2 linked regions of the Homo sapiens genome follow. The protein of the gene in region 1 interacts with the protein of each later gene in a biochemical or structural test. Each region holds a gene or a part of one and is shown in the gene's direction. Other genes may lie near its edges.

Region 1 (4,737 bases):
TGGCACTAAATTTCTCAGTCTTTTACTATGAGATTCTAAACTCTCCTGAAAAGGCCTGTAGCCTGGCAAAAACGGTGAGAAAGACCCTTTGTGATATCTAACCATAGCAAAACAGTGCTTGTGTTATTAACTTCATTTTATTCCTGAACATACTCATTGTCTTGGACTTTTTTTGAAAGATTTTCTGGGGGTGGGAGTGTATCTTTTATGAGATAAATACAGATCTGTTACTTTTTTAATTCATTCTCAATACCTTCTGCTGACTTTGTTTGATTACTGTTTTTTGCGGGTGGTTGTAGAAAGTTCCAGGTGAATGTAGTTAGTTGTTTCTTACCAAGCTTTGGGCCTTGGTTATACATTGTCATTCTCATGCCAAGATTTGAGGTTATAGTTGTATAAAAGAAATACACAGCACATTCTTGTTGTGTGTTGGATTACCTTCCATATTCTTCCTTTGGCCTTCTCTACATATTTTTTATAGTCCCTCAACATGCACACAACTTTTTAAAAACATTTTTATTCGGGAAAGGTGCCTTAAAGTTCCGTCACTTAAATCAGATTTAGTGATGTGAGTTTCCAGACATTTTGAGTTTTAGTTTAAATAAATAAATAATTTTAAATAGAAGATTGCTAGAAAAGTCTTTGGTAATTAAAAAATCACACGCGTTTGCCCAGAATGACTGTGCTAGGGTTAGCAGTAATACTGCTTAGTTATTAGGTACAGCAAAGTTCTTACCTTGGAGTTTCTGTCATTGTTGGTTGGTGCTTTGTAAATATGCCTTATACTTCTGCTGGAAACAGCTAACAGACAGGGTAATAATAGCCTAGGTTCCCCCAAAGTACTGTACAAGAAGATAAGTTATATTCACCTAGCGGGAAAAAAAGTGGGCTAAACTAGCTCCAGAGAACTTGTGAATTCTTTGCTAAAGGCTCTTTGTTTTAGGCATTTGATGAAGCAATTGCTGAATTGGATACGCTGAATGAAGAGTCTTATAAAGACAGCACTCTGATCATGCAGTTACTTAGGGACAATCTCACTGTAAGTACTACTTCCACAGGGTTTATAGTCTCTTTCCTATTCACCTACTTAATAATTCACTGTTATCTTCAAGAGGGGATTTGTACCATTAAATGTAGTTACAGTTTTAAGTTGTTAAATTTGTTATAAATGACTGCTGAAGTTTTGACCTTTGCAATCATCCCTGTCTGCAGTGACACAGGAATAATTTTAAACTGTCGAGTGAGATAAGATTATACATACTGGGCCACTTACCTAGGGAACTTTTAGTAGCCCTGCTTTGATTATACTTCCTTTCTCTTGCAGCTGTGGACATCGGAAAACCAGGGAGACGAAGGAGACGCTGGGGAGGGAGAGAACTAATGTTTCTCGTGCTTTGTGATCTGTTCAGTGTCACTCTGTACCCTCAACATATATCCCTTGTGCGATAAAAAAAAAAAAAAAAAAAAAAAGAGAATCGTACGTCGACTTTCGATTTTTCACAGCCTCAGCCTAGGAAAAATGGTTCATGGGATAAACAGCTGGTATTTGTATCTAAAACTCAGATTGGTCACATAAATGCCACGGCATTCCGAAGTTTTGATTTTGATTAACATTGACAGGATTACTGTGTGTTTAATTTTTTAAAAACTGAACACTGTGATTATGGGGTTTTGTAATTTAGCAGAACTCTTACTGGTAGAAAAAATAGACCTGAATTATGTGTAACTTTTTGGAAGGTTTAATCTGATATCAAAATAATCATTGAAATACAATTCCATTGTAAAGTTGTACAGAAAGTTATAGAGATTATATTGTGATGCTGGAACTTGGAGTGAGACACACATCATTTGGCATTTGAGTTGAATGGTAATTCACAGTAATGCTGCCGTTGTTCGGGACTTAAAGACACTTGACCTGTTTGGGCTGTTGCCACTTAAAAGTTCATGACCACAAATGTCCACAGTGTCTTCCTCTGAGGAAACTCGAATCCTGAAATGGAAATTCTTTGTGGCAGATAACTGGCTTATGACACCTTGAAAAGTTCAAGTGCTCATATAACACACCACACTGAACCCCCTTTCCTACAGCAATATGTTCACTATGTTACCAATTTGCAACTTGTGCTTCAATAGTGGAATCTACTTTCATTGTTAACACTGAGCTAAAGAAAAAAAGCCGTGTGTTTTATGAATGACCTTATCTGTTTCCTGGATAATACCTTTAAGAATAATGTCCTGAGTCAGGCGTGGTGGTGCGTGCATCTAGTCCCAACTATTTGGGAGGCTGAGGCAGGAGGATCGCTTGAGCCCAGGAGTTTAAAGCTGCAGTGCCCTGTGGTTGCACCTGTGAATAACTGCACTCCAGCCTGGGCAACATAGCGAGACCTCATCTCCAAAAAAGAAAACAAAAAACAAAAAAAGGAATGATGTTCTGTAGAGATGGCCTTTCACTTGAGGAGTACTCAGTTTTCAGGTTCTTCCTAGCTCGGGGCTTTTAAATTTTGAAATCTAAACATTCTTTCCCACCATCCTTTTTGACTGTTGACCTTGGTTTTCTCTTCTAAGTTTCTGTCCCTCTGCTTCCTTACTTTTTTTCCTTTTTGAATTCTATCTTTATCTGTCTTTTGTTCACTTTTTAATGCTATATATGGGCAGGGGTGAGAGACATTACTGAGCACCTTGGTGAGCAAGCCTGGCTTTAAAGATTGGAGAAGAGCTTCTGGCACCAGAACCCTGTCTTCCTCCAGTTCTCAACACGGTGTTGCTCTTCAGTCATACCGGAATCTGAATCAAAAAAGTATTTTTAAATATCCATGATTTCTCCCTGTATTGAGGCTAGCCCTGATCATGCTTTTTGTGCCTGTCACCAGGTCTCCCAAGTGCACTCATCCAGGTCAGTGCTCAGATGTGTTTAAGGAGACCCTATATTCAGGGAAGTTGCGTGAACACTGCAGTGGGGAGAATTGAGAATAGTCAGGCCTATCAGTCTCACAGAATCACCCCTCTACCTTTGATATTCCACTTAGCTGTAGAGTCCATCTGTTTGTCCATCTGCTGAAATGAGAAAAGAAAAATTTATGCACTGATTTAAAACAAACCAAAAAAAAAGAAAAAAACAAAAAAAAAAATCCCTCCTTTCTAGCTGAACAAAAATGTGCAGTTAATACTTGGCGCTTGAAAATGCAGTAGTGAATGTGGAACCAAGCCTGTCTGTATATCTGGTAGCTCTTTTCTTGCTTTGTTTTTTCTTACCAGTATTCTGCCTAACGTTTGCTTCTGTGATGGTTATATTGCCTAGCAAGCACACCCGTGGTTGTGAAAATAGTATAGCAAAAAAGAAAAATCCCCGGTTATTGATGTACTAGATTTGTGTATGTCTTTTAAACAGTTCTAGTTTCACCTTACACAGAATAATCAGGAAAAGTGTAAAAATTCAAAAGTGAAATAAAAATTTTATCAGTTAGTTGCCTGTGAATTGATGTGTCACCACCATCTCTGTTGTTACCAGACCTAGCTAACTATTCTGATCACACTTATTTTTAACTCTGTTTTCTTTAAAAATAGGCAAACAGTTTTATTTCATTATTTAGGACCAGAAGTCAAGGTGTTATCCAGGGGAAGAAATTACCATTAATTAAACAGCCTCTTTACACCCGTTACTTGATACCTCTCTACCTTCCACAACAAACCATGCAGGTATTAGGTCCTCTTTAGTGACTTCTAAGATTTGGTATGGACAGTTATTTTGCATTGTATTCGAGCCCACCATCCCTTCCCCATTTTTTAACTCTGAGATACAACCAAGCCAGTGAAATAGGTAACCTATGGTTGCATAAGTCTTGGTCATCACCAAGCTGGCGTCTCACCTGTCCTCACACTGTATGGTGGCCTGCAGAGCTGGTTCCTCACAGGATTTGCCCCTTCTGAAAACATCCACATTACCACAAGGAGAGAAAAATATCAGGATAGAGGGGTCTTTTTTAGCCCAAGATTAGAATTAGTGCTTCCTTGCTACTCTGAGGCTGGACAGCCAGATGGGCACCTTCTGTCCCTAGTTTAGGAGCTGTTCCACCTGTTGAAGCCACACTCAACCAAAAGTCAGTGGGGGCCTACCTGCTCTGTTGGATCAGTGAGACCAGGAAAGTCCTATCAGAGGAAAAGTGAAGTATTGGTGCTCAGTGGAGTAGTTGTTTTGTTTTTGTGTTGTTTTTAATGTCCCTATACCACAGATTGACGCTGCAAGCTCAGATTCACAGTCTTGCTCTGTTTAGGTCTTGCTCTGCTATTAGTTCCCAATTGTCCGCATTTAGGCTGAGCCACAAGTAACTCAGTGAACCTCCCTGGTGTAATGGATGTGTAATGGCTTAGCAGAGGGACAGGGAATATCCCAGGAAAAGGGGTCTTGGTAATATGAGCCAGTACCAAGAAAGGCCTTAGTGGTCTCCAGTTCTCATGTCTCAAAGCCATTTCCATCCTTGGTGCGAAACGGTGGGACTGGATCAGGCTCTCTGGAGGAAGACATCTTCAATGGAGCAGGGTAAAATTCTCTACACAAGCTTTGAAACAGTGGCCTGTTCGGAATTCCGTTTGTGTGTGAAACGCAAAAAGCGCGGTTTGGGTCTCCTTTCATTCTTGTCAGGAGGGAATCATTCCCATTTTACAGAGAAGGGAAACGGGTTCAGAAAGATGATCATCTGTTCCGGGGTTAGAACTCAGTCCCCTGCGTCCTTTCCGTCC
Region 2 (3,500 bases), on another chromosome or scaffold:
ATTTATAAGATAGGCACAGTAATATATTAACAATAACCGATAATAAAGTAGAACAATTCTAACAATATTCTGGCATCACTATTCTTGCACTTTGGGCCATTAGTAGTAAGAGTTGACTTAATTAGTAATAAGAGTTATTTGAACAGCCTAGGCAATGTGGCAAAAAAACATAACAAAACAAAACAAAAAATATAGCTGGGTGTGGTGGCACATGCCTGTAGTCGTAGCTACTGAGGGCTGAGATAGGAGGATCACTTGAACCCAGGAGGTAGAGGCTATAGTGAGCTGGCACTCCAGCCAGGGTGACAGAGTGAGACCCTGTCTCAAAAAAAAAAGTTACTTGAGTACAAGCACTGTGATCCTGACAGTTGTTCTGGTACTAACAGGGTGGTAGCTTATACAGCATGGATATGCTGGACAAAGGGATGATTCACATCCTGGGTGGAATGGAGCTGTAGGTTCATCATACTACTTAGAACTGCATGTGACTTAAAACTTATGAATTGTTTATTTCTAGAATTTTACATTTAATATTTTCAAACCACAGTTGAGCAAGGGTAATGGAAACTGCGGAAAGTGAAACCAAGATAAGAGGGGGACTACCGTATAGGGAAGTTAGTCACTTATGTACATCTCACACAGTAAGCTAATGTCAGGGACAACAGTAGAACACGAATTAAATAAGATTCTTCATAAAGAAATTTCTGAGCTAGGTGTGATGGTACATGCCTATAGTCCCAGTTACTCTGAAAGCTGAAGCAGGAGGATCTCTTGAGCCCAGGAGTTCCAGTCCAACCTGGGCAACATACCAAGACCCTGTCTCTTAAGAAAAAAAAAAAAAAAATTCTGAAAGCCAAAATTAGTAGGGAAATTTGTTTTGAGTTTCCTACATTTTTTCAACTCTTGGAATCAGCTCCCGTAATTTATGTTTTCCTAGGTAATTGGCTTCTAAATCTTGAATAATAAACACTGAATAAACATAGTTTTTCTTCAGTTGTTCATTTCTTCTTAGGGACAGATTCACTAATTCACAAGTAATTTGAATTATCATAACTGATCAGTTATGAAAAACTGTTACTAATTCAAGGATATTGCATTATCAGAAATGTTTTGGCAAATTTTATAAGCAGAGGAAAACCTCACATAACAGAGATAAAACCAAAAACTCATTTTAAAGGGTCATATAACAATATGTTTATAGATGTTTATTGAACTGCTGTGTATAACGCCCTGTGCTAGGTACATTATATACACAGATGAATAAGAGTAATTTCCTTCTGAAGTTCCTTAGCCATGTAAATGGAGTATGCAGTCATAAATGTGCATAATGGATGGCTGGGTGTGAATTCACCATTTTCCAAATTCTGAAGAGTAGTTGACATTATGATGGTCTGGGGAAGAAAATGATTGATAGGTTTGTATTTAAATCACTGAGTAGTGATGGAAACTAATCCAAGCCTAGCTTATATAGACAGGAATAAACCACTTAATTTTAACACAAAAGAATAGTATTTAAGTAAATCATCTACTCAGCAGCTACCATTTATTGAATGCTTACAAGTAATGTTTGGGCCTTTTTGCATATATTACTTTTCATTTTCCTCACAGTAATCCTTCAAAATAGGAATTTTTATCTCCAGTGTACAGATAAGTAAACTGAGATTAAATCTAATGTCTCACGTCAAACAGATGTGGGTCTCTAAATCACATCTGATTGGCTCCATGGCCCTGCCATTCCATTATTGACACTCTACCTCCTTTACTTAGTCCAAGCCTCAATCTCTTAACTATAAAATGAAAATAATAATAGTACTTACAGGCACAGTGCCTAAAATGTGGTAAATACTTAACTATAGATAGACATACAATCACACTCCCAAAAATTCCCAAAAATTTATTAAGTACCTAGTTTATACCAGATATTTCATATTTATAAGCTCAATCTCTAGAACCATCCTGCATGTAGGTAATTGTTAGATTTCGAGGATGAAGCTCTGAGACACTGAGAGAAGGTAACCAATTAATATGAGCCAGGATTCAAAGTCTGTGTTTCTAAAGTTATTTCCCGTTCTACACTGTCTTTTCCTTCAGTTATATGTTATATTCTCAACTCTTTATATTTTCTTTCCATGTATTTTGTACAAACATATAAAATGTGTTAGATTGTATTTTACTTCTATAATTTCCTAATCATCTCCAGTTAAAGTGTATATATATTTATGTATTCATTACAGTTACAGAGTGTTTCAAGTGCCATTCACCTATGTGACAAGAAGAAAATGGAATTATCTCTGAACATACCTGTAAATCATGGTCCACAAGAGGTAAAAAAAAAAAAAAAAAAAAAAAGGTTATATTAAACTCAAAATGTGAGAAGAATTTGAAAAAATCATTTGGTCTAAGCCCTTCTTTTATAGAAGGAAAACTAAAGCCCAGGGAGCTTTTAGGATTTGTTTGGTAGCTCATGTCAATCTCCAACTTGAAACCCAGCTGTACTGATTCTCAGTTCATTGTTCATCCCATCAAATCACAATTATTGCTTCTTTGTTTGACATTGAGTTCTGTCCCTGTCATTGTTTTATACAATAAATGATATCCCAGGGTATTATGTAGGCAAATCATTGATTACAGTTTTAACACTGTATTTATGCTACCTTGTTCTTACCTCTTATAATAATTAATGAGAGGAAAACATTGCTGCCTAGGAAGAAAGATCTCTTTAGTAGCATTCAATCAGACTTATATTAGTCTGAATTAGTAATTTCTTTTAAGAATGTATATGTATGTTCATTTTACAGAATTAGAAAAGTAACATAGATTGAGCATCCCTAATCCAAAAATCCAAAGCCCTCCACAGTCCAAAACTTTGAACACCAACATGATGCCACAAGTGGAAAATTCCACACCTGTGTTAGTCTGTTTATCGTTGCTATAATGAAATACCTAAGAGTAGGTAATTTATAAAGAAAAGAGGTTTATTTGGCTCACAATTCTGGTAGCCAGAAAGTCCAGGATTGGGCAGCTGCATCTGATGAGGACCTTAGGCCGCTTGCACTCATGTTGGAAAGTAGAAGGGGAGCGAGCTATGCAGAGAAATCACATGGTGAGACAGGATGCAGGAGAGTGAAAATGAGGAAGTCAGGTTCTTTAACAGCTTGCTCTCTCAGGAATCCACTCACCACTTCTAGAATGGCACCAAGCTATTCATGAGGGATCTTCCCCCATGACCCAAACACCTCCCATTAAGCCCCACCTCCCAACACCACCACATTGGGGATCAAATTTCAATGTGAGATTTAGTGGGGACAAACAAACCATATCAAACCATAGCAACATCTGACCTCATATGATAGGTCGCAGTCAAAACATTGTTTCATGGGTGGACACGATGGCTCAAGTCTGTGATCCCAGAACTTTGGGAGGCCAAGGTGGGTGGATCACTTGAGGTCAGGAGTTCGAGACCAGCCTGGCCAACATGACAAAACCCCATCTCTACTAAA

The links.
Region 2: the proteins of YWHAB (region 1) and RIPK2 form a complex in vitro, tested with the Homo sapiens proteins (one study listed by BioGRID).

The regions. Positions count from the first base shown.
Region 1 is NC_000020.11:44,905,058-44,909,794, forward strand, and holds the end of YWHAB (14-3-3 protein beta/alpha), read left to right. Parts: coding exon 1-74; intron 75-943; coding exon 944-1,039; intron 1,040-1,324; coding exon 1,325-1,381; 3' UTR 1,382-3,475; downstream 3,476-4,737. UniProt on the Homo sapiens protein: Adapter protein implicated in the regulation of a large spectrum of both general and specialized signaling pathways. Binds to a large number of partners, usually by recognition of a phosphoserine or phosphothreonine motif.
Region 2 is NC_000008.11:89,781,816-89,785,315, forward strand, and holds part of RIPK2 (receptor-interacting serine/threonine-protein kinase 2), read left to right. Parts: intron 1-2,234; coding exon 2,235-2,324; intron 2,325-3,500.